2 linked regions of the Homo sapiens genome follow. The protein of the gene in region 2 purifies or fractionates together with the protein of the main gene of each other region. This does not show direct contact. Each region holds a gene or a part of one and is shown on either strand. Other genes may lie near its edges.

The links.
Region 1: the proteins of GUCY1B1 (region 2) and MTFR2 purify together in Homo sapiens (affinity purification with mass spectrometry; 2 studies listed by BioGRID and IntAct, with this or other methods). This does not show direct contact.

The regions. Positions count from the first base shown.
Region 1 is NC_000006.12:136,248,195-136,251,942, forward strand, and holds the start of MTFR2 (mitochondrial fission regulator 2), read right to left. Parts: upstream 2,118-3,748; 5' UTR 1,782-2,117; intron 960-1,781; 5' UTR 906-959; coding exon 843-905; intron 1-842. UniProt on the Homo sapiens protein: May play a role in mitochondrial aerobic respiration essentially in the testis. Can also promote mitochondrial fission.
Region 2 is NC_000004.12:155,757,403-155,761,150, reverse strand, and holds the start of GUCY1B1 (guanylate cyclase soluble subunit beta-1), read right to left. Parts: upstream 2,131-3,748; 5' UTR 2,011-2,130; coding exon 2,008-2,010; intron 1,796-2,007; exon of another isoform or gene 1,610-1,795; intron 1,365-1,609; coding exon 1,291-1,364; intron 1-1,290. UniProt on the Homo sapiens protein: Mediates responses to nitric oxide (NO) by catalyzing the biosynthesis of the signaling molecule cGMP.

The DNA of each region.
Region 1 (3,748 bases), on a different chromosome or scaffold from region 2:
CAACCATGTATTACTCCTCTGTATTACCTGCAGAAACAAGCATATTGTCTTAGATACAGCAGATTTTCAACAAGTAGATAAAATTTGATTTGCTTATGATATGGTTTGGCTGTGTCCCCACCCAAATCTCACCTTGAATTGTAATTATCCTCACGTGTCAAGGGTGGGGCCAGGTGAAGATAACTGAATCATGGGGGCAGCTTCTCCCATACTATGCTCGTGGTAGTGAATAAGTCTCATGAGATGTGATGGTTTTATAAACAGGAGTTCCCCTGCACAAGCTCTCTTGCCTGCCACCATGTAAAATGTGACTTTGCTACTCATTTGCCTTCAGCAATGATTGTGAGGCCTCCCCAGCCATGTGGAACTGTGAGTCAATTAAACCTCTTTCCTTTATAAATTACCCAGTCTCCGGTATGTCTTTATTAGCAGCATGAGAACAGACTAATACAGCTTATAATTCTCAGGCCTAAATCATCCTCTTTCCATTAGATTTATTCTGGATTTATTGAGCTTTAAATATTGAACTTGTTTATAAATTACCTTGAATAGAAGTTTTAATGTATCTGTGCAATAAATGTAATTCTGTGAAGCTCATGTCTATATTTTGCTTCCTTTGTATCTTCTGTTGGCATTTGTCCTATCAGGTAAATATGTTCTCAATAATCTTATCCCTCTTCTAACTCAAATCATCAAAGCTATACTATTACAAACTCACCTTTGTTCCAACTAAAAAGAAGCAACAACTTTGCCTTAAATCAAATGATTACATATAAGTCATTTTCAAAATGAAACCCAAGAACAAATACAACAGATCCATTCCAATCCAAAACGACATTTACCTGTTCTACAGGAACGCCAAAATATTCCAGCATCTCTCTTAAGATATTCAGTATGAGAGACATTGATGAAGCAAATACAGAAGCCAATTCAAAGGAACATTATCAGTTTCTTGGTGCCTTTGGGGAAAATTTTAGAAAATGTTACTCTTGACAAATAAATGCCAAATTGTACTACATAACCTGGAAAAGTCCTCTTGATACACGACACAGTCAACTAATTTCTCCTAGCCAGCATTCTTTTAAGTCAGAGAAAAAGAAAGGAAGGGGAAGTCTGGGGGAAAGAGAGGGTTGTAAAGGAAATTTCAATTAATTGGTTAGATTACATTAAAACCTCGTAGGATGTTTGAGCCTAGTTAATAGAGACCAATCAACAAACTGGACATCTACTTAGTAGGCAAGGCTTCAAGTTACATGCCACAGCGAAGCTCGCTCTTTCCTGAAAGCTTTGGGCTGAGACTCTTAGCAGATGGGTGAGTTTAGCCAACCCTTGAAAGCAGGCAAGGGACGACTCAGTTTTTAAAAAAATAAACAGTAGCTCTTCTCACACACATATCCTCACGTGTCAAGGGTGGGGCCAGGTGAAGATAACTGAATCATGGGGGCAGCTTCCCCCATACTATGCTCGTGGTAGTGAATAAGTCTCATGAGATGTGATGGTTTTATCAACAGGAGTTCCCCTGCACAAGCCCTCTTGCCTGCCACCATGTAAAATGTGACTTTGCTACTCATTTGCCTTCAGCAATGATTGTGAGGCCTCCCCAGCCATGTGGAATGCCCATCCCTCCTCACTCTTTTAAAATGAGAAGCATGAATTCCAGATACGGGACGTGACTTGGTCACCCATCTAGTAACAGGCCGTGACCAGAGCCGGATCGCGTCCCTCGCTTTGGTCACAAGCTTCCTGGTGCTCTCCAAACACAGCGTGGTAGCCTTGCTCACCTTCCTCCGAAGCCGAGCCCCCGGGAATCACCAGAACATCAAGCGGAGGGCGTTAGGAATCCTCAATCAAATTCCAGACTGCGCCACTCCTTGTGCAGATCGCTCAGACGTCTACCCAGACCTCGACCCAGTTTCCACCCGCGCGCCTCGGCTTGCAGCCACAGGCGGTAACGATGCCCTCAGCGAGGAATAAGAGGTCAACCCGGTGCCCAGCCCTGGAGCCTCACGCTCAGCCAGGGTAATGTTATGGGAAGCGCGCCCCCGTCCTCCTGCGCCCAACCAACCCACCTGCTAGTCCCTAGGACCGGACTGCTACTTCCGCATGACAGGACTGCTACTTCCGCATCCCAGGACGAAATCAAACTCCGCGGGCCAGGACCCGTAACCAGCCTCATTGGGCAAAACTGAAGATCGCTGCTTCTGATTGGTCATTGCATGATGTCAGGCAATTCGGGAAGCGACTGCTTTTCCTTCTCAAGAGGCGGGTCTTCCGAGAGTCAGCCAATAGGAGCTGACGGGCAGGGCAGGTCGCGTTAGGACAGCGTCGCTCCCGCAGGGCAAGGTTTTAGGTACAAACTCGTGAGCTGGACTCGCAGTCCGGAGTTCGTACCCCACAGAACTCTTCGCAGGGAGTGTCTTACTCGCTACAGCCGGACCCTAAGCGCATCCGCCTTCCCAAGTTCATCTGACACAAAATCGCGATTTATTTTTTGGTCATTTCATTTGTTCAGCTAATATTAAAATACTTGTGGAACTGGCAGAAGCCAAGCACTACCCCCGAGGGTTTTGCAGCTTTGCAGTGGCTAGGATTCATTCTTTCGTTCACTAAATACACCTACGTATCCAGGCTACCGAATATTGGGCCGGACACTCTCCTGGCTTAGCCGAGGATGGCAAGTGATATGACAGGTGATATCCCAGTTTTCATTTCTGATTTGAGGTTATTGGCTTCATACGAAATAGCTTCCTCTTCTGAATTTCAGCAAGACGTGCACTGGAGTGATATAACAATTTAAGATGTGTGCCTGCTACTGACATAATTTGAAAATCTAAGTTTTGAACTAATTTATCTATGGTCAACATCACTTATTCATTCAACCAATAATAGATATCTACTACGTAGCAGACACCATTCTAAGCACGGAAAATACCTTAATGAGAGGGCAGGTCCTCGTCCTCCTGGAGCTTACAGGCCAGCGGGGCATCTCGTTCCATTCTAACCCTAATTTGCTTTTCTCTATAGCACTTATCATATATATTTAGTTACGCTTCCACTACCACCAAACAAAATTGTAGACTCCAGGAGAACAGGAAGTTGTTTTGATCCATGCTCTATCTTTCCCCAGTGCTTTAGAAGAGTGTCTGGTATATAATAGGCATTCAGTCTATTTGTTGAATAAAATACCTAAATGTGGAATGACAGAAAAGATGATAATGATTTGGGACTAAGCAACTAGCAAAACAATTGATAGCAATAATAGTGATATGCCCAGTAGAGCTGGATACGGCTGAGTGAGCGCAGAACAAGGATGATGATGGATCAGAAACCCTAGATGGAGTAATTTTCTCAAGTTCCTTGTCCTTCCCTTTGCCCTTGTGAATAAATCACGACTTTATAACCCCCTCCCTTTCCCACTCTCTTATCAAACAGCAAACAGACAGGGCCAGAATGAAAACATCCCTCCAGAATGAGAACGGAACCACTACTCTTCCAGCTGCACTATTAACATAGGTTAATATTCCAACTGATTTAAGTAGCAAGGAGGACCCAGGTCAAATACTACATCCATAAATGCTTTGCTGACAACTTTCTTCTAAATTCTTCAGAGATATTTCTTCCAGTTTACTAAAGCATTCATAATTCCATTTTGACAAAAACATTTTATGTGATTGGACATCTTTTTCCATTGCTCATTTTTACACGAAATTAGATTTTCCTGAACTCTTAGAATGAGATAGGGTCCAAG
Region 2 (3,748 bases):
ATACTTGCCAAATCTCGGCTTCTGTTTATAATATGTAGGTAATATGCCCTGTGGATAATACAAATGGTTTCTGAAACATGAAAGAAACGCTCAGTGATACAGATCCAGGGGAAAGAAAAGTTACATTTTCGTGCTTAATATATAACCCTGGTCATTTCTATGGAAACAGATCGTTATGAGAAATCACCATCATGTAACTGCATAATAAGGCCTGTTAGAATTGATTGCTAATAATTGTAATGTGCTTAGGGAAAAACAGCATGGAAGCCTCACCTACCTGAGACAACAAAATGAAATCACTAAGTACAGGAAATCAGAGTGAATAATAACAGTGTATTCCCATCTGCCCACCCAGGAAACCCTTCCTTCCACCTTTGTTACAATGTGATAGTCTGACTGTTGCTCTAATATGAAAATCCATAAATAGGGTTTTGGAGTAGCTAGTTGGTGGTGGTCAGCTGTACCATAAGTTAAATGCAAATTTTTTGAGAGTGAGAGGAAAAAGGAGAGACAACTTTATTAGAGTGAAATAGTCAACCTGCCTGCAGACATGCTGACCCATCAGTCATTCCAACAGGTTTAAACTCTCAGGTGGGTGTGGTATTTCCGTTCACATCCCCAGTACTGGGCTCAAAGCTCCAGGACTGAAAGTAGAATGCCTCCTAGAACTGTTAAGTCTTCAACACAGTAGAAAAAAACGGGGGATAGGGGTTGGGGCGGGGGGGGTGGGCAGTGGGATTTGGGGAAAACAAAAAACTTCCAATTTTCACTTTATTTAAAAATGAATAAATGCGCTTAATTCACTGTTGCTCAAGAAATAATCTCCCGCGTGTTTCAGCATACCAAAAAGGCCTAACTTACGCCAGGTGTGTAAATCATAAAGGAGCCAAAGTCTTCCGTTTGTTTCTAAGGCCTCCGGGCGCAGGAACCTCGCGGAGGCCCGTGTGGTCCCTCGGGGCTCTGCACGCGTGGGAGCTGCCCGGCCTGCTGAGCCTGGGAGCGCCGGCAGCGCGTTCCCACGCTCAGGCCGGGTCGGGAAGCCGTGGTGACCCCTAGGGGCTCCTTTCCGCGGTTCTCGCCCTCGCAGCCCCGCCCCAGCCGCCCCTCCCCTCCTGGTTCCAGTCCCGGAGCGTGGGAGCGCAGCTGCAGCGAGCCGGGAGCGAGGCGCGGAGGCACCTCCAAGGATGCGCGCCCGCGACCCGGCCAGCAGGCTGAGGACCAGGCGAGGCGCGGGGGGCCTCCCACACTGGGCGCCGACCTGGGCCACAGCCAGGGTAGCCGGCCACTTACTTGATGTCTTCCCACACCTCGGGGCCGTAATTGCGGATCACCAGCAACTCCAGGGCGTGATTCACAAATCCGTACTGCGGGGACAGGGAGAGACTTGAGCGTCAGGGACCCGCTGTACCTGAGAAGCGGCTTGGGGGCGAGGCTGCTGCCTCTGCTCCCATGGCGCTGGCTTAACCTTTCACCCCGCCCCTGACTCCTCTCCCTTAGGGGTACTATGCACTAAAGGAGTCGGATCGTGGGGGCGCAACCCCCCAATCCCTGGTGGATTCTCCCCGTCACCATCCGCCCCACCCCCACGCTATCTTCCCACCCTCCTCACCTGTCACCGCTCCGGGAGAGGCTGGGCATCGGGGGCAGCGCGGGGACGCGAACCCGGAGCCTTCCCTTCCGCTGGCGCTCAGCCTCCCACACTGGTGGGGCCGGCCAGAGCCGGGAAGACCCCACGCCTCCGCCGCACCTCCCCTTCCCGAGCTCAGGAAGCTGCGGTGTGGAGCGGCAAACCCGCCTGGGAAGCAAAGGCACCGATCGCCCCCGCCACGACTCGCGGCGTTCCCACCTCCCCTGACTGGGCGCGGGCAAGGAGTGAGGCTGCTCCCGTGGCCGGCAGTGAGCGCCCAGGGCCCCCGAGCCAAGCTCCGGCTGCGCGGCCAGTTCCCTCGCTGCCAGGCCGGCCGAGGAGGGGTGAGGTTCGGGCCGCACCCGGCTGAGAGCACTTACCATGGTGTCTGCACCGGGAGCCGGGGAGGCAGCCCCCACGCAGAGGTACGGCCGAAGGGACCCAGGCAGAGGCGGCAGCGGCTACAGCGCAACCGGGCCGGGGAGGCAGCATCGAGCTGGAGCGAGAACAGCCGCCTTGGCCCGCCCTGATTGCCACCTCTTCCCAGCCAATGGCGAGTCGAGCCGCAGGGGGCTGGTCGGTGCTCCCCAGTTCTTCAACCAATCAGGGACAGAGGAGGGAATTCGGATGCTCTCAATGCTGCTGCGCTCCAGTGCCTTCCCGCCCCCGCCTGGTGACAAGGCCTTCATTTGAGGCCATAACAATGACAGTGGAGAAGCCCCAGCCGTGCTCCTTGCATGAATTCTGGAGCAGAGGAAATGCAGCTCTTGTGGACCCACTAAATGTATTATTATTCAGAGATCTGCCCTCAGTGGTTAACACAAGCAAAAGGGAACAGGGCGTGTTTGTTGTGTGAGCGTGTACGTGTGTACTTTGCAATGGACAGACCTTAAAAGGAATATCCTCTGTTGCTGGCATCCTCATGCTTATCTTTGTCTAGCGGAAAAACATTTCCTCTGTGGCTTGGTCCCACAACAGTTTATGGCAAATTTAAAGCTGGTAATATTGAGAAAAACATATTTTCACTTCTAGTCAATGAGACTAGTTGAGTGAAGCACCAAAAATTTTCAGTAATGTAGTTTGGTGGACGTTATGTTAAATCCAGTCCTGCCCTTTACTAAACTGTACAAGATCCAGCGATATTCTAGGCTTGATCCCTGTGGGACACCTTTCCCTACACCATGTCCGGGAGCCATAATTCCAGGGAGTTTGTAACCCTCTAGAGCGGGCCTCTGTTGCTGTTTCTTAGCAACAGACGAACTGGAAAATGACCAGTACAAAATGCACAGACTTTAACTACTCTACCTCCAGCTTACATTCTACCAGGCCCTTAGGTTAGTTAATGCTCTGAGTCCTGCCATAGAGAGAAGATGAGAGGAACAGGAAGTGGCAGCTTATTAAAGCTGTTTGTACCTGAGGTATATGGACTCCAGTTGACTTTTAGGGCAAGGTCAAAAGTGAGGTCACCAGTCTCAAGTGGACCTGAGAAGCCAGATGGTATTTTAAGATGTGCATATTTTGTTGTGAGAACAGTCTCAATATGGTTAGAGAAAAATGTCAAAACAATAAGATTGTGCTGACATCAGCACCGAGAGAGCTATGATGAAGGAAACTGATACAGAAATAGTGGCATGTAGCAAACAAACAAAACAACAAATTACTTTAAAAATTTCCATTATTGGTGGAATGAGTAAATAGATTACAGCCTTTCATACAATCTAACACCTTGTTTTAAACAACTATTAAAACATTAATCATTATTTAACAACAATTAACCACTAATTTTGAACCATTAAAATGGCACATTAAACAACCATGAAAAAGCAGGAGGGTGACTAGAAAATGATGATGCAGAAAAGTATTGTCAGGTTTACAAAACACCACAAGAATGTAATCATTTTCCATTTTTTAGAGTTAGTATACAGTAAGGTGCTATGTGGGTAATAACACAGGCACATACATGTTGCTGTAAGAATAATGGTTTGGGAGGAAACACAGGAAGTGTTGATATGGCTATCGTCTGTAATTAGAACCAGTGGCTGGAATGGCCATGACTCTTACTTTTTATAACTTTCTGTATCTTTTGATTATTTTTCTACACAGATGAATTTTCTTTACTGT